Regions from separate parts of the Homo sapiens genome. Here all the other regions are linked to region 1. The links come from fine-mapping of genetic effects on gene expression. A gene starts in region 1. Each other region holds a variant in brackets. All regions are shown on one strand. Distances are between the middles of the regions. Region 1 holds the start of LRCH1 (leucine rich repeats and calponin homology domain containing 1). Region 2 overlaps LRCH1 (leucine rich repeats and calponin homology domain containing 1). Region 3 overlaps LRCH1 (leucine rich repeats and calponin homology domain containing 1). Region 4 overlaps LRCH1 (leucine rich repeats and calponin homology domain containing 1). Region 5 overlaps LRCH1 (leucine rich repeats and calponin homology domain containing 1).

What was found.
Region 2: its variant is fine-mapped to the expression of LRCH1 in whole blood (INTERVAL, PIP above 0.99). The same link has a PIP of 0.9 or more in blood mononuclear cells.
Region 3: its variant is fine-mapped to the expression of LRCH1 in whole blood (INTERVAL, PIP 0.95).
Region 4: its variant is fine-mapped to the expression of LRCH1 in whole blood (INTERVAL, PIP above 0.99).
Region 5: its variant is fine-mapped to the expression of LRCH1 in liver (GTEx, PIP above 0.99).

Annotation. Positions count from the first base shown.
Region 1 is chr13:46,550,102-46,555,105 of GRCh38, forward strand. LRCH1 (leucine rich repeats and calponin homology domain containing 1) reads left to right here and starts at 3,069. Exons shown (of 20, transcript NM_001164211.2): 1 at 3,069-3,602. The coding sequence starts at 3,296. RefSeq lists silencers at 3,013-3,202, 3,263-3,322 and enhancers at 3,526-4,226, 3,883-4,202.
Region 2 is chr13:46,686,028-46,691,031 of GRCh38, forward strand. It overlaps LRCH1 (leucine rich repeats and calponin homology domain containing 1), which reads left to right. Exons shown (of 20, transcript NM_001164211.2): 5 at 1-14; 6 at 1,825-1,952; 7 at 3,106-3,169. Among named protein-coding and RNA genes, the nearest start is that of ESD, 110 kb to the right of the region's middle. The variant A/G (reference allele first, on the strand shown) is at 2,412.
Region 3 is chr13:46,698,708-46,703,711 of GRCh38, forward strand. LRCH1 (leucine rich repeats and calponin homology domain containing 1) reads left to right here. Exons shown (of 20, transcript NM_001164211.2): 10 at 629-696; 11 at 2,414-2,500. Among named protein-coding and RNA genes, the nearest start is that of ESD, 96 kb to the right of the region's middle. The variant C/T (reference allele first, on the strand shown) is at 2,896.
Region 4 is chr13:46,713,900-46,718,903 of GRCh38, forward strand. LRCH1 (leucine rich repeats and calponin homology domain containing 1) reads left to right here. Exons shown (of 20, transcript NM_001164211.2): 16 at 1,661-1,765. Among named protein-coding and RNA genes, the nearest start is that of ESD, 81 kb to the right of the region's middle. The variant C/T (reference allele first, on the strand shown) is at 2,383.
Region 5 is chr13:46,673,344-46,678,347 of GRCh38, forward strand. All of the region lies in intron 3 of LRCH1 (leucine rich repeats and calponin homology domain containing 1), which reads left to right. Among named protein-coding and RNA genes, the nearest start is that of ESD, 120 kb to the right of the region's middle. The variant A/G (reference allele first, on the strand shown) is at 2,382.

The sequences.
Region 1 (5,004 bases):
GAACATGGGAGGTGGAGGTTACAGTGAGACTCCATCTCAAAAAAAAAAAAAAAAAAAAAAAAGAAAAGAAGATTAGTTGATGTGAGCACAGCTTAAGAAAATGCTTGAAAGCAGGTGACTAGACTTATGTATGACTAACTTCCTTTTAAGAAAACCAAGGGTCTCAGCAAGTACAGTAGTTCCCAGAGTTTTTGATTTCAGAGATAAACAACATCAAAATAATTGGTAACTGACTTTAGTAACCTCCTTTTGTTATTTTTTGAAAAAGGATACTTAAAAAACACTACAATTTATTGTTACCATTGTTTTGGTTTTTTTTTTTCATCAGAAAAAAAAATAGTGAAGGCACAGCCTCACAATTATATATAATTTTTGAAATTAAATACATTCAGGTTCATGAAAAACTCAGGACATTGTCCTATTTTTTTTTCCTCATTTTATCAGGGTCATTTTTTCATCAACTAGCTGATTCACATAGAAAAATCCTGAAACACATATTATTTATCTTCAGAGAAATTCATGTTGATGTTACTAGTTGCATCAAATATCTCAGCCAGACAACATTATTTGTTGAATCTTCCAGGCAGCGGATTTTTTTAAAAGGGCCTGATTCCTGCCCTTAATAGCAAAAGGGTGCTGTTTTCAGAATAAGTAAACAGGGTATTAAACAAAAGAGAGATGTCCATCTTCTTGAAGAAATAGTGAAGAAGCAAGACAGCAAGGGGAAATGGCTTGTCGAGTTTCTTTAATATTTAGAAATAATCAAGATCATTTTCAAGGGTCAAGTACTCTCTCCCATTTTAAGAAAAACTCCTTCATTCAGGGAAATCATTTGAAACTTTAAAGATGTATCAACAAGTACCCCATAAATTTATACAAATAAAAAAGGACATATCAACAGGTGGCAAACCTGTTAAACACATGGTCTATTATGCAATACTTAATTGATTACTAATATTAATTGTGCACTCATTATATACAAAGTACTCCCCTCGATTCTGAGGCATGGGGAGAGAGTTGCAAAGATGAATAGGTCCCTATTTCATGGAATTTACAGTTTAGTAATCTGTAGATGGGTAAACAAACCACAATGAGTAGGTCAATCTAACAGAGGGACTGATCATTTGTTAAAAAGCAAATCGTGGGCTCATATGCAATCCATTATTTTCTTTAAAGAAGAATTAGTGGTCTTTTAAAAAAATATGTATGCTTCCTATGATGCATCACAACGACTCTTAGTCTGAACTAAATTTGCAGTCAGCCAGAAGATGTCCCAAATCATGTCCTGACTGCTGATCACACAGACTACCACCTGGTTTCAGCTGAAGATTCTTTTAATTGGATTTTTTTCTGTGTTTCTGTTTTTCACTGGATTTTGTTTTTCTCTGTTCCTCTCCCTGGAGGAAAGTGGAAATTTGGTTACTTTTTTGTGATGGAAGTATACTTTCATTTATTATTATTGTCGTTATTATTATGAATTTTGAAGCCGGACTTTTAAAAGCCTGGAAGGCTGCGGCGAATGGCATGTGAGAGGGGAGGTTTGCGGGAGGATACCAGCAGGTGGCGCGTGTCTCCTCCGGGCAGATTAGAATGCTTTGCTCAGGGCCAAGAATCCCGCAGGAATTAAGGGCAACTATCTGTGCAGTCAATTCAAGTGACACAGATCATGCCATACTTAAGTGCCGAGTCCATGAAGTCACCAGTTCCAGCCTGTTGTCTAGGCCATCAAACTTATGTATTACCACTTAAAAAACCAGCTCCCCTACTCCAAGGGTTGCATTACTTTCGTGCTTGACACCCCGACAACCCCGCACCCACCCCCCGACTCATTTTCCCCAAGCCAAGTCGCTCATAGGGGACAATCAAGCCTTAAGAATAGAGCAAAAATAAAGGCCCTGGAAAGTTGGACATGAAGCTTTAACTTCAGGAAAGGAATGGTATTCTATTAATCGTCCAGCTGGTCTGCCCTTAGGGTGTCAGATGTTCTCTGTCGCCCCTGGTGTGCCAGCATTGGCCTGGGTGCCACTGGGTGGCTGATGGCAGAATGTGAATTCACTTGCAAGCGGACATGTTCGTTTCCATGCCCCAAAGCGGGAAGAAGAAGGGCACAAGGAGACTTCGATGGTTCTTTCAGCTCAGACTCGAGCTGTGACTGATTTGCTGTTTGGGGTCACTGGCTTTCTAGCCTCTCCTGGCACCACCCAATTTCGGGGAGCAGCCAGCTCATCTTTCTCCTACGACAATGTCTTCTGTCCCCCATAAACACTGCCCTCATTTTGAGTTTTTCTTTCCTATGTCTGTAGCTTTCTTCTGCCGCTCAGCAAACACTCTGTCCCACTCGTATTCGTCCCTTGGCGCTGGCGTCTGGCCCAGGGGTACACTGTGAAGGAGGGCAACCCTAGATTCTGAGGGCCCTAGCTCGAATCTAGCGCCCCTCTAACTGCAGGGGTGACCTTAGATACATTTATTAACTTCCTCTGTAGACTCAGGGGAACAACTTTGGCACTCCTGGGGTCCCTGGATTAATGAGGTAACTTACGTAGACTCCCTAAACAAGCGTCTGGTTCATTGTAAGCGCCCAAATGCCAGGGGGCATCTGCAGGGATGACCCCATAGTGAATGAAAACTGCCTCTTGGGGATCTCTGGGTTAAACGGCCAGAATAAATCGCAGAATTGAGAGAACCCTCTCCTGCCCCAAACCTCACTGTACTGTAAATCCCATTCATTGCCTCCCGCCGTTTTATCCGTGTTCTCAGACCACCCCCCTATCCCCGCAACCTCCAGTCCCCTAAAGCCTCCTGGGCGGCAAAAGGACGCCCAGAGAGAGGTTCGGCGCCTCAGTTGCCCCGGAGCAGACGTCCAGCCCCGCCGTGTACCCGATTGCGGGGCGGATCGCGGCAAGGCGGCGGCGGCCGGCAGAATAGGCGCGGAGGAAGGCTCAGGCGGGGCAGACTGCGTGGGGGAAGGAGGAGGAGAGAGCAGACGGCGGAGGAGGGCAGAGCAGCCGGGGGGAGGGCGCAGGGGCGGGAGGAGACACATGCGCGCTGCCGCCGCCGCCGCCGCCGCCGCAGTCCTTAGCTTCCCGGGGACAGGAAACCTTCAAGACCGAGCTGCCACGGCCGCCTCCCCGCCCGCCCCCCATTCTACGCGCCTGCCCACACCCTCCTCCCCTCCTTCCAGCGCCTTTCGGTGGAGCACTGCGGCACTCAGCCCGAGCTGCCGTTTTCCCCTCGCGGGGAACGCTGTGACCCCCCCGCAGGAGCGGCGGGGCGGGGTGGGGGGGCCCGGGAGAAGATGGCGACGCCGGGAAGCGAACCCCAACCTTTCGTCCCGGCCCTTTCGGTAGCTACTCTGCACCCACTTCATCATCCCCACCACCACCACCACCACCATCAGCACCACGGAGGAACCGGCGCCCCCGGCGGGGCGGGTGGTGGCGGCGGTGGCAGCGGGGGCTTCAACCTGCCCTTGAACCGGGGTCTGGAGCGCGCGCTTGAGGAGGCGGCCAACTCCGGGGGGCTGAACCTGAGCGCCAGGAAATTGAAGGAATTTCCCCGTACCGCAGCCCCCGGGCACGACCTCTCGGACACGGTGCAGGCAGGTGAGTGAGGGCCGAGGGGCGGGCAGGGGTGTGGGTGCTGTCTGGGTGTCTGTCGTGCGTTCCCTAACGCGGTGGACAGTCGGAGATCTTGTCTTGCTGGGGGAGGGAGGGTCCATCGGCCCGTTGTCTCCCGAAGAAGGGACTCGCGTGGGCGCGGAAGAAGCGGGCCCTGGAGAGGGCACGGGGGCCCTGCCTGGTCCGGCGATGCAGTGCCAGGAGGGCAGGGGTGCGCCGGGCCTCTGCGCCTGAGAGCGAGGGGTCTCCGGCTCTCCACCCTGTGGCTGCCGCGCCAGGGAAGTAACCGCGGGGCTGGGACTTGCAGGCGCGCCGCGTGCGCGCAGTGTAAGTGGGAGGTTTCAGGCGGCTGTGTCGGCTTCCTGGGCCCCGCGCAGGGCTGGGAACTCCAGCGCGGACAGCGGCGTCGGCGCCTCCAACCAGTTCAAGCCGTCTTTGCATCGAGGCGTAGCCCATCCTGGTGGGGAAACCCAGACAAAGGTGGCACGCCCTCGGCCGAGCCAGGGGCATCGGCGCAGTGCCGCGAGCCCCCTCGGCGACATCGCCGAGCGATCGGGCAACTCGGTGCCGCCTGTGAGGTGCCCAAGTTTCCTCTCCCTGCGCTTGTGCGGGAAAAGAGCCGCCGGGCTTGTAGTGAATCCCAGTCGGCTGCCGCTTCGGAAGCGATCGGCCCTCTTCCTTCCGTGCCTTTTGCTCACCGCCCACACAGTTTGGGTCCTACCACCGAGGCTACCTGGTTCTCAGTTACCCAACCGTTGCGGGGGCCCCAGGAAAGGACGGCGTGGCATATTAAAGGCAAAGTAATTAACGTGAGCCTGTTTTCCTGTGTGAGCCCGGCAAGTTGTAACTCGCGCCAATAAGCAGCATAACTTTTTCAAGTTACGTCATGTGTTACATACTTCTAAAACGTCTGCTTTCTCTTTGGTAGTTGGAGTTCCAGGAGCGGGATCTATAAACAGGAAGGAGGGTGGTGGAATAGGATTGGGGCCTTAGGGTCTATACAGAACTGACTTGGTTTCCGGCCATCCGGTTCCGCTCCCTGGGGGAGGGTTTGTGTCATAGCAAGCGCCCAACATTTCCCAGGGCAGTGGGTGCTCCGTTTTGGAGCCGCTGCCCAGACCTCTTGGCTGTCATCGCCTCATGGCCCAGGGTCAGACCCCCTGGGTCTTGGATGGGTTGACTCTCATCACAGGAGCACCCAGTTTAATCTTGTAGTGGGCAAGGGAGCAGGCAGTGGGTTTTTGGAGGCTAGGTTTCCAGTGTCTTTTCCCCCTTTTAATTCAATAAACATTTATCTAGAGCCTTAATGAATATTTAGATACAGTTCTGAGTTCACTGGAGGCAAAGATGGCTCTCCAGGGTCATTAAACTTTGTAATTTGGATTTA
Region 2 (5,004 bases), 140 kb after region 1:
CTCCTCCAGCACAGGTGAGGGGTCTTGCAGCAAAGCCAATGCCCCATGGGATGTGCTGTTATAGGAGCCAAGGGAAAATTTCCCCTTCACCCTCTGAAAGTTTGCTGAAAATCACTAATCACTGGCAAGCGGCAGATTAATTGGAGAAAAGGCATCAAAATTTATTAACATGTACGTGGAAGCCTCCAGAGTGAAGACCCAAAGATACAGGGGAAATTGTCCATTTTTATGCTTACAAAGTATGGACAGCCATGTAGAAATATGATTGGACAAAAAGAGTATGATCTCATGTTAATAGACTGAGTGAGGAAACCCAGCAGGGCCTGTTTGTCTGGATTCTTCTTGGGCTCTCTGAGGATCATTCCTTCCTTCTGGGCGTGGGGCAGGACCCTCTTTGCGATGGGGGGTCTTATGGCCTACTGTCAAACAAGAGAAGTCAGATCATTTCTTTATGGCCAGTTTTTACACAGAAAGGCCGAGGGAAAGTTCCAGTAATATTTTGAGGTTTTAAAGGGGTTTTGGTTTCTATGACCAGCTTTGGGGAAGATTCAAATTTGTAAGGCTCCCTTCCTTGGGAGAATGGGACCGAGGGGCAGGAGGGCAGGAGAGGTCAGAGAAAAACTTTTGCTTCTGAGACCTTCATTTTGGGGTATTGTTTTCTGATTCCCAATGCTATCAATCATGCTTAAGCAACTCTCCAAAGGCCAGTTTTCTGATTCTCTGCTGAAGAGAATAATACTGAATAAAACTTGATTATAAACAGTCACAGTGAACCCTTGAGTGAATGTGAGAAACAATAAATTGTCTTCCATTGCATCAAATCCATTCACCAGCACTTGGCTCACTATGCTAATCACTCCAACTCCAGAATTAAATGTCTTATTATTTATCATTTTATTTGAATTTGTTTCATGGAGTATATTGATTTTTTTTTTTTTTTTTTTTTTTTGAGACAGAGTCTCGCTCTGTCGCCCAGGCTGGAGTGCAGAGGTGTGATCTTGGCTTACTGCAGCCTCTGCCTCCCAGGATCAAGTGATTCTCCTGCCTCAGCCTCCTGAGTAGCTGGGACTACAGGCGCCTGCCACCACACCTGGATAGTTTTTGTATTTTTAGTAGAGACGAGATTTCACCATGTTGGCCAGGCTGCTCTCTAATTCCTGACCCCCAGGGATCTGCCCGCCTTGGCCTCCCAAAATACTGGTATTACAGGCGTGAGCCACTGCTCCCAACCATATATTCCTTATTTGAATGTTAGCTGGAAAATGGAATTTAAACACCTTAAAACATGGTTATTGATTATTTAGAGACAAGTCTCCAGCTCAAATGTTAAACTGCATGAGAGAAAAATGAAGTGCTATGCTTTCAGATGCTTAACCATGTAAATATTTTGAAGTTTATTTTCTTTTTAAATAATTTAACAGCTTCTTAAATCTACAATTATTTTTAGGCTCTGAATTGCTTTCTATCAGCTCGAAAATAATTGTGCTTTTCTCATCTTTTGTAACTGGAATTTCACCAGGCTGGTCATCTGAGTTTATATTTTTTATACTATATATACTTGAATACATTTTTGTTAGAGTTTTATAGTTTAATGCAAGAAAAAATGGGAAATTGCTTAAGCATGATTTTCTATTCAAAGTAGAATTTGGAGGGAATGATTCCCAAAATTCTTACATGTTTTGGAAAGGACGGATTTAGTGTACATTGGTAGGGTGTTACTTAAAATGAAACTGGGAAAATTGAAATATACAGAGTAAGGATTTGATACTTACATTTTGTTTTGTCATTGAAAAATGAATATGATTGCTATTAATTTCTTTGTAGATTTGCACAAAGGGCAAAGTTCACATATTTAAGTATCTGAGCATACAAGCATGCCAGATTAAGACAGCTGACTCCCTTTATCTCCACACCATGGAGAGGCCACATTTACACCAGCACGTGGAAGATGGGTGAGTCATGCCCTCATTCAAAGCCCCAGTTTAAAATTTGCCTAGGCCAAGGCCCTCCAGGTAGCTGACTTCAAAATCTGTTTGTTTTAAGTCACCATGGTATCTGCAGAAAACAAAGCAAAACAGAACAATTTGGTTTAATCACCTAATTTGTATTTAAAACAAGAAGTTGAGAAACTATTGGGATATGAAAGAAAAAACTGCTGCTATTGAGAATATTTTGGTATATCTCAAATATCATCTGTCTCCTAATCAATAATCAGTTCTTCCTGAGTAAATATGTGCATACTTATAAATAAGATCTAGAATACAAATGTGAATATTTTTTACTTATCAAAATAACTATATTGAGCCCAGACATGCCTTTTTAGCAATTATTAATGTTGAATATGCCTCCAGAACAATGTTAAGAAAAAAATGAAGGCTTTATTTTTGGTCTTTTAAAAATGCAGTATGTGT[A/G]GTTTTGTCGCCACTTCCTGTTTCAAATGGAAAAGTTAGAACCCTTTCACACATCCTAGAGCTTCTTGTGGCATAAATCAAGCCTTGAGCTTCCAAAAAACAACATTCTCACACTGAACACAGTTATAGAAATGCAGGTTCTTTTTAAGAAGTCTTCACTGCAGAAATCTTTTCCTTCACTTTTTGCTACATAAGTAAATTTAAAATTTTGGACTACTCTAATGTTACTTTTATATAATGCTTAAAATATGTACACTGTTTTATGTACTTAATCCCTGGATAAAAATTTACAGAATTATTGAAAGTAACCACATTTCATAACATAAGGGGTAAAAGCAGTTATGTGGTTTATTAATTTTTTATATGCTAGATGCAGTAAAATAAGAACATTGGTAACTATTTTTAAGAAACACCTTGACATCTAAGAGCAAGCCACTTGATTAGAGCATAAATCCATGAAACCCCGAACACAAAGAATTTTATCTTATCCTGTGTTTAGACTGTGCTACTGTCTGATTTTCATTAGGTCCATGTCTTAATATTCTTTAATACTAGACTGATTTGTTGCCTTATGGTAATAATAAAAATTTGCGTAGCAAAATTATTATTAGAATATAAATTGATGTTTCTTGGTGTGAACTTTGTGATTTTAATCTTTTTTAAATGAATTCAATATTGATGGCATCTATCTCAGCAAGAAGGATTCTGATTCGGGAGTTGGAAGTGATAATGGAGATAAGCGATTATCTGCCACCGAGGTAAAGTTAGTGATCAGATTCTTTTCCTTCTGTACTTCTAGACATATCTACCAGTGTTCATTGAACTCCTTTCTGTTAAAGGGCATCGATTCATTTGTATATTCATGTGATATTCGTAAAAGTGATTTGTATATTCATGTGATTTGAAATCCTCGAAGTGTTATATAAATATTAGCTGTTGTTACTTATTCTGCATCTTTAATATCTTTAATATTTTGTAAATGCCTCAAGAGTGGAGTCTGTATCTTCTCCTCTCCTACACATTATCTAAAATATTATTGAGTGCTCAATAAATATTACAAAATGGCTAAGTAGTACGCAAGTGCCCGTGAAGCACTTTTATACATACGCTTATTTTTCAGTAATAGAGTAATTTAGAAAAACATTGTTATACATATGCGTAAATGTTAAGGAATCAACTGTACATTTTATTTTAATAGTTGATCCACAGGAAATGCATTTATGAGTAGCTATAGTTTTTATAACAATGTTTGTTTTCCTCAGACTCTTAGATTGTGTTCTGTTCTGTTCTGTTCAGTTAATTGGATACAAGTTTGGTTACTTGCAAGCTAACAGGCCTCACACATTAGAACTTCCTATAGTGGTTATAAATCATGCTTTGATAACTGATTTATTATCTCACATGTAGTCTATTAGAGTCCCCAAAATCTAACACTAATGTATCATTAAATGGAGCTTCTTGGCCTCAGGGATCTAGAAAGGAGTGGTAGGAAAAGTATCAGGTGCTCTTCTTTTTTTGAGGGAAGTTACTTTCTGTAGTTACTAAGTTAACATTATAATACTGTGAAATTGCAGTTAATAGGCCAGTCACCCCATCAAAGAAACTCACATTTTTTTCTATGTATGACTCCAGGAAAAAAACCTTTCTCCAATTCTCCTCAAGTCGTTGAATTTTAATAGGTAGCTAAGGTATTTGAATTTATTTTTCACAAAATACTCTATATAGCAGTATATTAAAAAGTGGGATTCTTTATCTTTAAAAATCCTTCTAATATAGAGCATTTTGAAAAGAAGAAGAGTTAGTAGGCAGAGAAGGCCAGTGTCAATAAAAGAAAATAACCCATAGGAAGGCACATGAATAGTTTACCGTGCTTCAGTGGGAGAGAGGGGATACTAAACACATTGCTTTAGTTGCATTTTAATTCATCCTCTTCAACTCCTAAGTCCTCGCAAATGGACCATTGTTTCAGAAATTACTCACCCTAAGTATATTTTCTGTTAAATTAAACAGACTCTGCTTTATCTCTCTTCTAAGGCTAATTAAACTCATTAATAAAACATTACATAAAGAACTTCATTATCCTTTTGTTGTCACTTAAGCATAAGTAGGATGCTAATATCATTCTAAAAGGAGCCCAAGGATTTATTCTGTGCCTTTTAATTAGATGCATATCTTTGGAATTTTGCTAAATTTTTAAGATGAGAGGTGGGTAGAAAGAGAAGGGAATACAGAAAAGATTATATTCAACAGAATGAAATGCACACATCTTGCCTTTGGCCTTTCCTTGTCTTATATTACAGCCTCCTTTCCTAAGTACACCTCCAAGAAATTTATTTTTTAGAGTGATAAGTGTTCCAAATTATCTTACATAGCTTCCTATTTTCACTTGGTTTGGCAAAGATTTTACCATCTATGATCAGGTGATCTTACTTCCCATTTAGATGACATTGTGGGGTTCAGGGATCACACCTCATTCTTTTTCTTTGGCTGCTGCCATTGATTGATTTAGCATTTGTCACTGAGAGATTAAAAACATCTTTTTATCAAGATAAACAGGAAAGTGTGGAGCTCTATGAATATTTGTTGAATGAAT
Region 3 (5,004 bases), 150 kb after region 1:
TAGGAAATCCAGTAAAGCTTTAAATTTCTGATGATAAGTTAACAGATGCTGTGGTCTTGGGCCACATTTTTTTAAATTTAAAAATGTTTAATTATGGGAAAATACTTACAAAATGTACACCTTAGCCATTTTTTAAATGTACATGTAGTTCAGAGTGTTTTAACTACATTTACGTTGTGCAGCCTATCTCCAGAACTCTTCTCACTTGCAAAACTGACCCTGTGTACCCTTTAAATAACAACTCCCTCGTTCCTTCCCGGCAGCCCCTGGCAGCAAGCATTCTGCTTTCTGTCTGGATGAATTTGATTACTGTAGACACCTCATATAAGTGTAATCAGTACAGTATTTGTATTTTTGTGACTGGCTTATTGCACGTAGCATAATGTCCTCCAGGTTTATCTGTGTGTATGGCATGCATGAGAATTTCCCCCTTTCTAAGGCTGAGTAATATTCTAGTGCATGTACATACCAGATTTGTTTATCTGTCCCTCCATAGATGGCTGTTTGGCTTGTTTCCAGCTTTTGGCTATTGTGAATAACGCTGTTATAAACATGGGCTGGGCAGGTTTTGGCTCCTGACTACTGAGTAGCCAATGGTTTTCAGGAACCCTGTGTGTTTTGTCCACAGGCAAGGGCAGAAGACTGTGAAGAGCTGTTACGGATAGAAGAGGATGTGCACTGGCAAACTGAGGGCATGTGAGTGCCGAGGCCTTGGTTACAAGCCATCATCACTCAAATCCACTTTGCAAGCAGTCTGGCAGTTCTGTTGTGATAGAATTTTGACCTGCTTTTCTGTGGGCAAGCTGATATTCTTACAGACAATATTGATAAGAAGTTGCCAGTTTTTCTCTGTCTGATGCTTTTTGTCGTGGTATTGGGCAGTACAAACCTCTTACTTGGCCTTGAGTCTTATTTGTTTTGAGGTTGCGGGTAGTAATGTGATTTCAGAGAATTAGCTAGAATTTCTAGATTGGAGGTTCTACCATCCATACAATTGCCTGAAGAAGCCAACAGCTGGGCCTGAAGTGATCTGTAGCGCTGATCTCCTTCTTTACCCCAAGTCATCCCCTTCAAGATCTGAGAACACCGTAGACTTCTGGTCCCAAGACTTCTAACTGCCAGAGCTACCATTTATTCAACATCATGTGCCAGGCATTGTCCTAAATACTTGACAGGCCATAACTCATTTCATCTTTACAACACTCCTAACAGATAAGTTCTGTTCTTGTCCCGCATTTCACAGATGACGAAACTGAGGCACAGAGAGATTGATTATCTTGCCGCAAGGTCACAGAGGGCCAGCATTTGAACCCAAGGAATCTTGTACCAGACAGATAATCCTTCTACTCTATTGTGTATAAATATTTATTTAGCAAGATTTACAGGGGAGGGGGTGTGTGATCCCATCAGACAATGAATCATGTCCAGGGGAATTGAGTTTGGACTGTGTGACATAGAGTATAGTTTTTGTTCCCAGGATTTTTATTTCTATAATCTGGGAGGCAGGTGTTGACTCTCCATCATACCTTGCAGGGTTTTTCTTCTTAGTGAGGATTTATCCCATTGTTAAAACTTTTCTCCTTACAGAAAGTCATTGGCTTACATTCTATGGTGGGAAGGGCTTGCTGTGATCAAATCTCTCTTGCCCTTTAAAAACGTTGGAAAGTTCCTCTCTGGTCACGGTCTGTATTACCAGCTACTCACTGGATATGCTGCTGAGAGCCACGGAGGCCTAGCTTGATTAAACAATCAGAGAATCATAGGGAAAGAGGCACTTGTTTTTAAACTATATAACGGTTTGGAAACTCCATTCTCAATCTCATACCTAGTGCTTTCAACCCTGGCTGTAAAGGATTATCTGTAGAGCTTTATAAAATGCTGAACTCCTAGTCAGACCCACTTGGACATATAGGGCCTGGCATGTTTTTTAAGCTCCACAGATGATTTTGCTGCATCTAGAGTTTGGACTGAGAACCACTGTCCCACACTGAAACCCTATATGCATGAAAGTAATAAAACTGGTTGAACGGGAGTTGGAAGGCCCAGAAGTAGTACAGACTCAGCCAGGTGATCCCCTCCATGCAGCCCCCTAGAACTCAGTAAAGCACAACGGTGAAAGCCTCTCATCTAGGCCATTGCCTGACTGTGCACAGGGGCAGTTAGGGGTGCACAGGCATGAAAATCTTATGTGAGCTGCTTTACAGCAGAGCTGGGCTTCCCCTACTCGGGCTCTTCCCACCGTGCTCTGCCATCCCACCCCACAAGGTACAAACACATTTTCACCATAACACTGAATCTGTCGAAATCATTTTCATATGTTAGATGGATTTTTGTAAGTTTGCTTTTTAAGAAATTAGATGATATTCATGTTGTATTGATCGTTTTCATTCTTATGCTTGGTTTCACGTTACAGAATAAGTTCATCCAAAGATCAGGACATGGATATAGCAATGATCGAGCAGCTGAGAGAAGCAGTAGATTTGCTGCAAGATCCCAATGGGTGTGTATGTCTCCTTGGTCCAGGTTTCATGTGTAAATAATGCATACTAATGTATGGAGTACATTGTCTAAATTCCTAAAATACCTACACAGACGATTTTGGCCCAGTCCAGCTACTAACAAAGAAAAGTCATGTTTATTGCCTGTTTTCCCAAGATGCAAAAGTAAAAGAGTCAAACTTCTGGAGGGAGTGAGATCAATTTCCCCTTTCACCACCCTTTATTGAGTTCATTCACCCCTCATGAAGTTCATATGGGAGTTTTTGGTAAAATTCTTAGAAAACAAAAATATGGTAAAAGTGCATGTTTTATATTGCTTAAAGTTTAAACCCCTGATTTATAAAAAATATAAAGAAAATGTTTTCCAAAAAGGAAAGAATTGGTATATCAAGTAGTA[C/T]TGTATTTATATGGGGTAGTGCCAAATATATGTTAACTGAAGAATATATTTCTAAAGATTTGGGATACAGGATAATTTTAAAATCTGAATTTGCCTTGATCGATAATAGGCACTACATTCAGTGGATATGTGGATAATATTTTTCGATTTCTTAACTAATGGTAATGGAATTCCCATGGACAAAATATTTTTCAGCTAAACAATAGCAGGTATCATGTATCGGGTAATAACTACATGATCTCTAGAGAACTAGAGGACTTGGTAAACTGATGTGGTCTTATAATATGATGAACACGGGAATCACACGCAGCAATCCTAGCTGGGTTCTGCAAATTTATGAAAAGCGTAGTTAGTGTATCCCAGAATGCTGATGAGAATATACCACCTATGATGTCTGGCCCTGAAAGAATAGTGGCGGATCAGTTTAGTACAGCTGGAAGTCTTTTGCAATTGATTTGAAAAACATTTCAATTCTGCAGACATTAATTGAGTGCTTGGAGTATGGGAAGATCTGCAGTGTGCACCTTGGGGGATGTAAAGATGGACAAGACACAGCTCTTGCTTTCTGAGAATTTAGAATAGATAGAGATTGCCTTGAGAAGTTATAAGTGTAACTGGGCCAGGCGCGGTGGCTCACACCTGTGATCCCAGCACTTTGGAAGGCCAAGGCAGGCAGATCACTTGAGGCCAGGAGTTCGAGACCAGCCTGGCCAACATGGTGAAACCCTGTCTGTACTAATAATACAAAAATTAGCTGGGCATAGTGCCATGCGCCTGTAATCCCAGCTACTCAGGAGGCTGAGGCAGGAGAATCGCTTGAGCCCAGGAGACAGAGGTTGCAGCGAGCCGAGATCGTGCCACCACACTCCAGCCTGGGTGACAGAGTGAAACTGTGTCTCAAAAAAATAATAATAAAACAAATAAATAAATAAATAACTGTAATTGATTCAAGTGCTTCAAGTGGAGGTAAAAAGGATAGACTCGAGCAAGTGCCCAACCCCAGGAAAAGGGGAGATGGGTGGACTGGTCTTCCTGAAGGATAGGATAATGGCCTGGACCTTTAATGACTGCCAATTTCAAGAAAAAGAGAAATTCTGGATTGAATGAAAGGCTTAGGTAAAGGCATGAAGGTCAGAATGAATGGAGCCAGGTTGGGAAAATCTCAGGCAGAACAGAGGCTCTCCATCCTAGTGTGCTTCAGTATCACTTGTAGAACTTTTTCAGAACAGATACCAGGCACTTCCTTTGGGGACTGGAGTCAGCCAGTGCTTCTGATGTGCAGCCAGGACTGCGAATCACCAGAGACAGTGTAGAATGATGCAGGCGATGGCTTTGGATGTTGTTAAGGAGCTGAGATTTTAATTTATATTTAGAGGGAGGCAATGATGGTGTTTAAACATGATTATTCATGTTGTTAATTCTCCCTTATGTTTGGCTCGTGGCATAGGCACCTAATCAAGGTATGTTCAAAGAGTTGAATTCTACATCCCAAGCCGGGGCAGTTAGTGAAAGGGCAGGAAACAGGACAGGAGAGCCTGTATGTGTGTTTACGTGTATCCATGCATGTGTATGGTTGTTCATACATGTATGTTAGTACATGTAGGCATGTGCACCCGTGTACATGTATTCATTATAACGAATCAGGAAGTAGTGTGGCTTGTAGAAAGAACAGACTTTGAATTAGCTAGAAACTTTTTAAACATAGCTGCACCATCAGTTAACTTGGGTAAGTTGTATGACTTCTCTGCATCCCATTTCTTCATCTATAAGAGGGGGTGACAAGTACCTACCTTTTAGGGTTATGAGGATTTGAAATAATACATAAACTGCCGGTGGAGAAGTAAATTGGCAAAACCATTCTAGAAGTAACTTAGTATGTAACCAAGTCTAGAAACATATAAAACTTCGGAGTGAAATCTAAGAACTTATCCTAAGAGACAAGAAGACGTGAACAATTTGGGGAATTTGGGGTAGAGAATGAGGGGTAGGTATTTTTAATAGCAAATATTTGGAAAAAGAAATTATCTAACAATTTGGGGATACTTTAAGTATATTATACTCTTTGATAAGACAGAATGTGATGTGGCCAATATAATGTTTTTTAAAGTT
Region 4 (5,004 bases), 160 kb after region 1:
ACAGTCAGTTTTACACAGTTTAAAAGCATGGCATAATTGAGCAAATCAAAAGTTGAATGGATCTTCAGAGAATAATATTCTTTTGAATGTATAACTTGCAATTGTAGAATTATTTTGGTGACTTTTTTATTCTTTTTATAGAGTCCAAACTCAACTTATTACAGTTAGGGTTTACATTGTACTGGGGCTGTTAAACCATTTCACATTCTTTGTAGCAGTGAAAAATAAATGGAGCTTTTATTTTGAATAGCAGAAAACAAAGTTAATTTCCTTTCCAAGCTTCCAGCCTTTCTATAATGCTGACTAACCAATGTGGAAATTGTTCTTGTTGTTGAAAGCTCTATGGAGTTTGGTTGCTGTAAATAATGCTGTTTACCTTCAGGATCATCAAGTGACATGTGGGAACTTTAAAAACTTGCATTATGTATGGAAATTTATTTCATTTTATTTAATAATTTTAAAATAGTATATATGCTTAAGTGTATTTTTCACATTTTCTGGAAAGTAATATATACAGTAATCTTAACTGGAAAGCATATAGTTTTAAAAGAAACCACTTTTGATCGAGTAGCTTTAGAATGCTTAAAGCCAATTAATTTTTATTTTGAAAGTATGTGGATTTATGTGATTTCTGTGTTATAAATAAAAACAGACTGCTTAAATTAGCAAGTTCAAATAAGAACTTAGATTCTTAAAGTAGGCTGGCAGTTTCTTTCATTTCTTTCTGTGTTTTCCTCCCGAACAAAGACAACTGCACACACCCAAATATTTATATCTAGAACTATATCCATTTATTTTACCGGCCCTGCCTTATGATTGAATAAAAAATAATATAGATATTTCCTAAATATGAAATTGCCATATGGATATTTAGTGCAAAAATAAGAGTTGTTATCATTTCATAAGTGACCAACTCAGAAGTTCTTGAAATTGATTGATCTCTGTTGATTAATTGGATTTGTTGTTAAATAGACTGTACTAGTCTCCAACATTTTTTGTTTTTTGTTTTTTAACTGAGCAATATTGAAAACAGTATTTAGAGGTATGTCCAGGATTGAGAAAAGAATTAGCTAGATTCAGCTATCTATAAAGCATGCCAATAGACCTACAGGTGTCTTTAAAAAGAAATTTGACATTGCTTTGGAGAAAAAAAATCACTAATGGTAAATGATGATTCTATAATAGTTTTATTTCTAAATAATAGATATATTTACGCATATTAAGTTTTATTCTATGTCACCAATTTTTTTGTGTGTGAATCATATTTTGTTAGTTTTTTAGAAAGTCTTTGAGGAACGTATCTGGCAGGTCTTTTGCTTTTTATCTACCTAACCTATGGGTACTCTTTCTTTCCTCTGACCTGATTCATTAGTACTCTAAGTCTGTGGGCTTGCAGAACTGTTAAGATTAACAAATATGAACTGCATGCAAAGTGTATGATTGATGGGTACTAACACTCAGTTTTTATCATTCTTTTTATTCCATGCACCATCTTTCATTCTTCTCCTATATTGTGCATTTGAAATTAAACCCCATATAAATGAAATCCACTCTTCATTTCCATGCAAACCCTATGCCATTTGTGAAATGCTGCTGCCCCTTTGGTTTTTCCTGGTCCTTGTGCAACTGTACGCGGACTGGCTCTCTGGCTCCCCTGCAGACCCAGCCCTCATTCTTCCTCCTATCTCCTTCAACACACTTACACAGGCACAGACATGGGACAGCTCTAGCTACAGTGTTCCATCTGAAGGAGACAGTGACAATGGTAGGTGGCTTTGTACCTATTCTCCAATGTTCTCATTAATAAGCCAATGCGTATACTGAACATTCATCTCTGTGCAGCTGAAGATAGAGTATATTCACCTGCATGCTTGGTATGAGAAATAATGTGTAAGCCTGGAAAGTGAAGTCCAGAAAAGTGCACGTGGATTGTTCTCTAGCAGTTTGTCAAACTCCAGTTTAATTAACTTGACTATTCTGGATTTGGGGAAGGCATTATAATACTTTCTTTTCTCCCCTTTTCTGCTTGGGTTTTTTGGTTTGTTTGCTTGTTTACAAATATTTGGGGTTTGCACATTTGGATTTATCTCCGCTTGTTCCTGCATCTGAACTAAATGGTTTTAGAGTTTGATATTTTACTATTTATGCTTACTGTGTGAGATTTCTAAGGTAATTAAAATGTACCATGGCTGATCCTAGAGTATTGCATTGAAAATAATGTTAACGTGGAGAAATTTCTGAAAATGAAGATAAATCATTTGCCTTCTTTTTTCCAAATTATTGGCATATTTTGACTTTTGATGCCTTCTTGAGTATAGGTTCATCTTTTTGACATTCAAGGATAGTAACTTGGCCTGAGAATCAAATGTGTAAATAAAAAAT[C/T]GAGGACACTCAGCTAGAGTTCATGTGGGTATCTTTTAATTTTGAATCTTATATAGCCTAAGAGATTACAATAAAACATAATTATTTAGATCTGCACACCACCTATATCGTAATCTCCATTCTAGTCTAATTTCATCCTAGTCTCTGAAATATTCAAATTTTAAACATTTTACTTCAGAATACAAAGTGATTGCAGTCGAGTTAAGTGAAACAGAGAATGTGATTTATAGGGAAGAGTAGTGAGGTACAGGGTATAGCCACAATGCAAACACAATGGAAAGATACGTTTTCTGATAATATTTATCTTTTCATCTAAGTATGTTACATGTAATACCTGGAAAATATATGTTTAAGACACTTGCTGTGATTTCTGGTTAAAATTCAACCAAAAATGCTTCTACAATTTCCTTATGGAGAAAGACAATGTATACTTTGGCAGAGTAGTTATAAAAAGAATTTTTAATATTTCATAGATTTCTAAATTTTTAAACGGAAAATAAATAGGATTAAAAAACAACAGTTATTAAACAAATGGCCCTCCTTATACCATCCAGTTGTAAATTTTGGAAGTTGAAGAGGGCTAAATGGAAACTTTCTTGATAAACATTTTCTTTACTTAAGTTTTTTTTTTTCTAATGGAGGGGAGGCATTTTTGTTTTTCAGAAAGTATAGCTATTTATGGGCCTAATGTTGTTTAAAGGAAATAAAGCCTAGAATGAAAGATTTATGTGTGGTTTGGTATTTCCTTAGGAATGATATCTGAAACCAAAGGCCTTTTTTTTTTTAAAACTGGGAAACAATTAGTCTTCTTATGTAGCAGTAGAATTACTATCTTTATAGACGAACAGACTAAAACCAGAAAGGTGAGGTGAGCTGCCTGGGTCACACTGTGGGGTTGAGGTGGAGGTGAAGCTGCACCAGGGTTCCTAACTCTGGAATCATCTCTGCCGCATCTACATTCAGGCTGCTTTCATTTGATTAAAAATCCTTAAATTTCCACAGAAAATAATCATTGTGGAAATCTTTCTAAAAATAAAATAACCTTGCAATAGTTATTTTTTCTATGAGTAAAAATTCCAAGAATTCACATGCAGCTGTTATGCTGTACCACAATAATAATAAAGCCATCGTTTTCAATACTCACGGTTCAGTCGATCATGTCAGATGTTTGGAGGTTGTCATTTTTTCCTATTTGCAATTTGTCTCTACTATGCCCTGGGCAACAGAAAAATTTCTGTACCGAAATAGTCTTTACAAATATTTGTTTAGGTTCCCAGATCTGACTTTTATGTTTATCTTCATTCTCTTTGTTCTTAACTTTGACCTGTGATTGGAATACATTTTCTAATGTAATGCTATCTTTGTAAATAACCTTTATAAATAAACATTATCTTATTACCAGCTCAACCTAACATAATGTAACTTGACTTTTATTTATACATTTAGTTATTATTTTTGGTAAGGTTGTCCTTTTTTTACCTTGCTCACTGTCTTGCTTTATATAAAATTATCCTTTTTTTAAAATTCTTTCAAATATCTTATTCCCATTCTATCTCATTTTAAATTCCCCATTTCTCTAAAACTTATTCTTCAAACAGATTTTTTAAAATTGGCAACCTGGGTAGAAGGTCCTTGGGAGTTTGAGTTCTCAAAGTCCCCAAAGTTCTGCCCCATAAGGTGGATGAAGGAGGATGTGGACGTTTGTCTGTAGGTTTCTCTGGGCCCACCCCTGGAGCTGGATGGGACAGCTTTAACCTCCGTTTTTAACCTGATAGTTTAACTTCTGCTTTTCCCCCTGCTCTTGTGTCCTCTTACTGAATCTTTCCTCTTCCCTTCACTTTGAAGTTAAAAACCATTTCTATCTTCTTTGGGGTCATTTTTGCTCTTTCATTTGCAGTGAATTTGTAGGTGCTAATTTATACTTATTGAAAATTAATCTTTAAGTTATCACCAGAGAATGGATGAATGGACCAGTTTACATTAGTCTCTGAAATAACCATGTATCTTGTACCAGTTTACAGATATTTTCCTTAATTTTTTACAGTAATCTTGCACTATAGGTATTATTTTTCCCATTAGAGAAATGAAGAAACTGAGGATATAAGAGGCTTTTTAGTGGCTCTTAACTCTGGTTTTATATTAGAATCACCTGGGCGTTTTGTAAAACTATAGTCACTTAGGCCCCATAGTCAGAAATGCTAATTTATTTGGTGTAGCATTGAGTCTAAGCACTGGTCATTTGTTTTACTTCTTTTTATGGGATGTTATGTGGTGTTCAAGTAAGGTTGACAGTCACTGGGTTAAGTAAATTGTCTAAGACCATAGAGAAGAAATGTGAGCATTTTGAGGACACCGAATGTGTCCAGTTCAATTTTAGGCACCAGAAGGGAATGAATGAATCAGCTAGTGAGAGTTCTGATTCACAGTAGCCTGGATCTAAAGCTCGTGATATTTTTTCAAAGCCAAGATACTGCTGCCTTTGAGTTTGTATATCTTAAACATCATGTCCAGTTCAGGTTCTTAACTTCCAAGGAGAAGTTGAGAGCTACATTTTAAAACTTCATGTTTCCACAGAGAAGAAATCTCCTCTCATTCAGTTAAATTTAGGTATAAATATTTTTC
Region 5 (5,004 bases), 120 kb after region 1:
GTGGTCATTATTTAACCACAAAGAGGGACTGGCCTTGCTTAAGGTCACGGTCTAAAAAAAAGATTATTTTCCATCCATTCTCACTTATCTTTCATCTTTTTGCTTAAAATAGTAGTGTTACTATAGGTAACCATATCATTATTTTTAGCTATCAATTGGAAAAAAAAATTCCCTGGAGGGCCAGAAGTAATTCTAGAATTGCCGTGGGAGGCTTCTGTTTTGTAGTCACGAAGTAACCAACTTATTATAAGATTTGGGAGCACCCCAAGCATTCAGAATACTTGAAGCCCTTTAGCGCCGAGACAGTGTCTCAGCTTATTAGGCTCTAAGCATTGTTTGTTAACTATTTTAGAAGAAATATTTTTAAATTGTTCACATTAGACTCAGAGTATTCCAAATGGAATTTTTTTTTTTTTTTTTTTTTTTTTTGAGACAGAGTCTTGCTCTGTCACCCAGGCTGGAGTGCAGCGGCTGTCGCCGAGGCTAGAGTGCAGCGGCACAATCTCTGCTCACTGCAGGCTCCGCCTCCCAGGTTCAAGCAATTCTCCTGCCTCAGCCTCCCAACTAGCTGGGACTACAGGCACGTACCACTGCACCCAGCTAACATTTTGTATTTTTAGTAGAGATGGGGTTTCACTGTGTTGGCCAGGCTGCTGTCGAACTCCTGACCTCAAGTGATCCACCCACCTTGGCCTCCCAAAGTGCTGGGATTACAGGCATGAGCCACCATGCTTGGTCAGAATTGTGAACTCTCTTTTTTTCTAAGTGTGAGTGAACATTCCAGAGTCAGCAATCCCTTAAAAAAATAAATAAATAAAATAAAAAAACTTTAGCCATCTACAACAAAGCAGTTGTCCTTTCTAATTTGTGAAAGGAATTGGAGTTGGAAAATGGTATCTTATCTTTCTAAATACATTAGAATTATATAAGATCTTTTTTTAATGCATTCCCATTCAGTCACTGCCTTGTCCTGCCATTTGAGACTGTGCAGGGAATGTCGAAAAGCAGTTGTTCCCCCTCCCATGAGGAAGCCACAAAGAGACACTACTGAGATGTCCTTTTCTTGACTCAACAAGAGCAGCCAGGTTGTATTTCCACATTGTTGCAGGTGCAGGAAAACTTATGGAATCTTAGCTCCATGGAGCTGGCCCCTCCAGGGTCATTTCAGATGGGAATGATCTGAAACTTTCTGACCTTCCTGGCTGCTCTGAATGACTTCTATGTGCTCTGTTGCCTCACTGCTGTAGCAGTATGGATATGTTGCTTTGTACGTCTATCTGCCTGTGCTTTCTATAAGGGGAAGAGATAAAGCATTCACATTTACTGAGCACCTGCTATATACCAGGCACTCTGCTAGGTATACATGTATTATTTCATATAGTCTTGAAAATAAGCTAGCAAGGTAGGTATCATGTTTATATTTTACAAATAAGTTTCAATTTTAGAATTACTTAGCCAAAGCCACAAGGATATGAAGAGGTAGAGCTGGAGTCAAAACCAGGTTTTTTAATCAGCGTCCTCACCACAATACAGCACTGTCTCTTCACCGAAACTGTAAGCCCCTCATGGAGTGGGGCTGTGATTTTTCTCCTTGGAGTTCCCTGGTTTAACTCCTAGTGGTTTTTCCATTAAAGTTGTGGGAGGAAAATGTTACAAAAAAAAAGGTTTGGTACAAATGGTCAATGTCTCACTAATGTTTTGTTACTGTGGAACCAAGAGTCAGGGAAGGGATCTGTAGACTTGTGTTGGCTAAATCTCATTTTACTCATTAAAACCTTGTTAACATATTGGAAACATGGTTCTTTTACTGCTAAACCATGCCTGATGGATGAGGTATATTTGTTAAGAGATGCTGTATAAATGCCATGTGTTATAATTAACAGGCAGCTGTAAAAACAAACACACTGTTAGAACACAATAAAATTGAGAGCCTTTTATGGGGCATTTGCCAAAGAAGAGTTTTCTCATTGGTTCCCTGTACATGGTGACATGTTGTGGTCCAGAGATGTTTTTTTTTCAATTCTGTCCTCTCTGAAGTCATGCAGTGTGTGAAAATCATGTCTTCTAGCTCTTACCTTCACATAAGAGAACACAGTATCTCTGATTTAAAACCTGCTTTTCTAATCAAAAATCTCACAAGGCCTGGCTCAAGTAACGACTTGTTGGAAGGTGCATTTCCTGGCCTTGATTGGATATGCTATTTTTTATTCTTTTTTCATGAAATGTTTGGTTGTGTGGAGAGTTTGGATTCAAAGATTGATTATTGAGCAGCTGCTGAGGAAAATCCCTTCTTCATTATTTGCTTGGGTAGCGTTCCAATCTCTGAGGGAGATAACAGCGGAGGCATAAATTCACGTGCTCGCCATGCTGTTTGTCCATTC[A/G]TTGTCTCTGGAGGCGCCTCCTAACCTCTGGTTTCTGTGGGATGATTGGAAACCCAGGGCTTGCGCAAGGCCCTCTGTGCTTCCATTTCTGCCTTTCTTCTGAAGAGCAGTGGGGTAGGCCGTGTGTTTGTAAACTTAGGAGAACTGTGCAACAGAGTTTTGCTCTGGAAAAAGACACTGGTGTTGAAAGGTGATAATTTGTCATCCCAGAGCTTTCTTGAGAAAGTTTCAAGTTTAAATGAACATATTTTCTTTTTAAGACAGCGAGTTCTGGCCGGGTGCGGTGGCTCATGCCTGTAATCCCAGCACTTTGGGAGGCCGAGGTCAGGAGTTCGAGACCAGCCTGACCAACATGGTGAAACCCTGTCTCTACTAAAAATACAAAAATTAGCCAGGCATGGTGGCATGCACCTGTAATCTCAGCTACACAGCAGGCTGAGGGAGGAGAATCGCTTGAACCTGGGAGGTGGAGGTTGCAGCAAGCCGAGATTGCGCCACCGCACTCCAGCCTGGGTGACAGAGACTCCGTCTCGGTGGGGTGGGGGGAAAGACAGCAAGTTCTGACCACAAGCATTGAGGGTTTTTGACTGTTAAGAAATCAAAATTGACATTTCCCGGTTAGTTACATACCTGTGTTTCAACCAAAATCATTTCATTATCTCTGATGTAGCAAATGGACTTTCCTCATATTGGAGGATAATTAGAATTATTTAATCCTTACCTGTTCTTTTGATAGAGACACAGAAAGGGTAAGACATTTACCTAAAGTTACACAGTGAGTCATACAAAATGCACTTCCACAAAAGGGCATGGCTACGTGATAGGAGGCTACTATTAGTAGCTTGCAGTTCCTGTCAGAACGTTTGCATTTTATTCAATTAAATAAAGAGCTAGATTCTTACAAAAATACATCTCAAGCAGTATTACCATAAACCTAAGTGTCAGAGCAAGGTCACGTGTACAAATACTACCTGCAGTTCCAGTGTGTGTCCTGGTCTTACTGGAATTATTCTGTAACCAAGATCATCTTGACACAGTATTTATATTGTTTTTCTTTTTTCTTTTTGTTTTGAGACAGGGTCTTACTGTGTCACTCAGGCTGGAATGCAGTGCCATGGTCACAGCTCACTGCAGCCTTGACCTCTCGGGCTCAAGCAATCCTCCCACCTTAGCCTCCCGAGTAGCTGAAACCACGGGTGCATGCCACCATGCCCGACTAATTTTTTAAGTCTTTTTGTAGAGTCAGGGTTTCCTAATGTTCTCTAGGCTGGTCTAAAACTCCAGAGCTCAAGCGATCTGCCCACCTTGGCCTTCCAAAGTGCTGGGAATATAGGCATGAAACATCGTGCCCGGCCTATGTTGGTTTTCACTAGACATCATTCCTTAAAAAAATACTTCTAGTCAGCCGGGCACGGTGGCTCACGCCTGTAATTCCAACACTTTGGGAGGCCAAAGCGGGTGGATCACCTGAGGTCAGGAGTTCGAGACCAGCCTGGCCAACATGGTGAAACCTCGTCTCTACTAAAAATACAAAAAAAAAAAAAAAAAAAAAAAGTTAGCCATGTGTGGTGGCACACACCTGTAATCTCAGCTACCTGGGAGACTGAGGCGGGAGAATCGCTTGAACCTGGGCGGCAGAGGTTTGCAGTGAGCCAAGATCGCGCCATCGCACTCCAATCTGGGCGACAGAGCGAGACAATGTCTCAAAACAAAACAAAACAAAAAAAACTTCTAGTCTCTTTTACCATATTGCTTTCTGAAAGTGAGTATAACCTAGTTTAATAATCCCTGAATTTATTCTCCGAATTTAAATCCTTGTTATTTTTGCATTCTGAAGGTCAGTTAGCAACGAGCACTTAGTAACAAAAATATATTAAACTCCAACATGGTTTTAATACTTCTAGAGACTCTTTTTATTGTGATGAGGAGAGAATCTTATTTCTAAAGTTTTTCTTTTGGTTACCTAAAAACATGATGACCAGTGGAAAGTAAGTATGTGTTAAGTCACAGTTCAAATTCTCTATTTTGTTTTTTATCTAAATGACAAAGTTGGACTGACTGGTCTATAAAAAACTTAAACTTGAGTATTTATATTACTATAATTAGATTCGTTTCTATCAAAAAGAATAAATTCAGTAAATATTTATAACATGCTCATGATTCTTTCTGATCTGCCTGTGTATTTGTGGTATTATAGTACTAACTATAGGGTGCTATGATTTCACTGAAGTTTGGAATCATTCTCTAAGACATAGCTTAGGGCTAATAGAAAATTCAGAAGGGATTCATTTGACTATTTTAATAAATAACTGAATATGGAATTTATAAGCTGATAAATTCTTACTAATTGCCGAAGTTGAGGCATTAGTGTTGTTTTTATTTACATTCATTTTCCTAAATCGTATCTTCTTTAAATCAGTCTGTAAAATTCATACCTTATCTTAGGCTGAATTTGAACAAAAGTGTTCTAGAGAACAAGGCCATTCTAGAAATATTGCTTTTACATTTTCAAAACAGGAGTATTTTATCCCCAAACACCTAGACTATTATCTCCTGTTTCTTTCTCCTTAACCCCCAGCTAATTCAGATAGTGACCCATGGGGTTTTATTTTTGTGATGAATT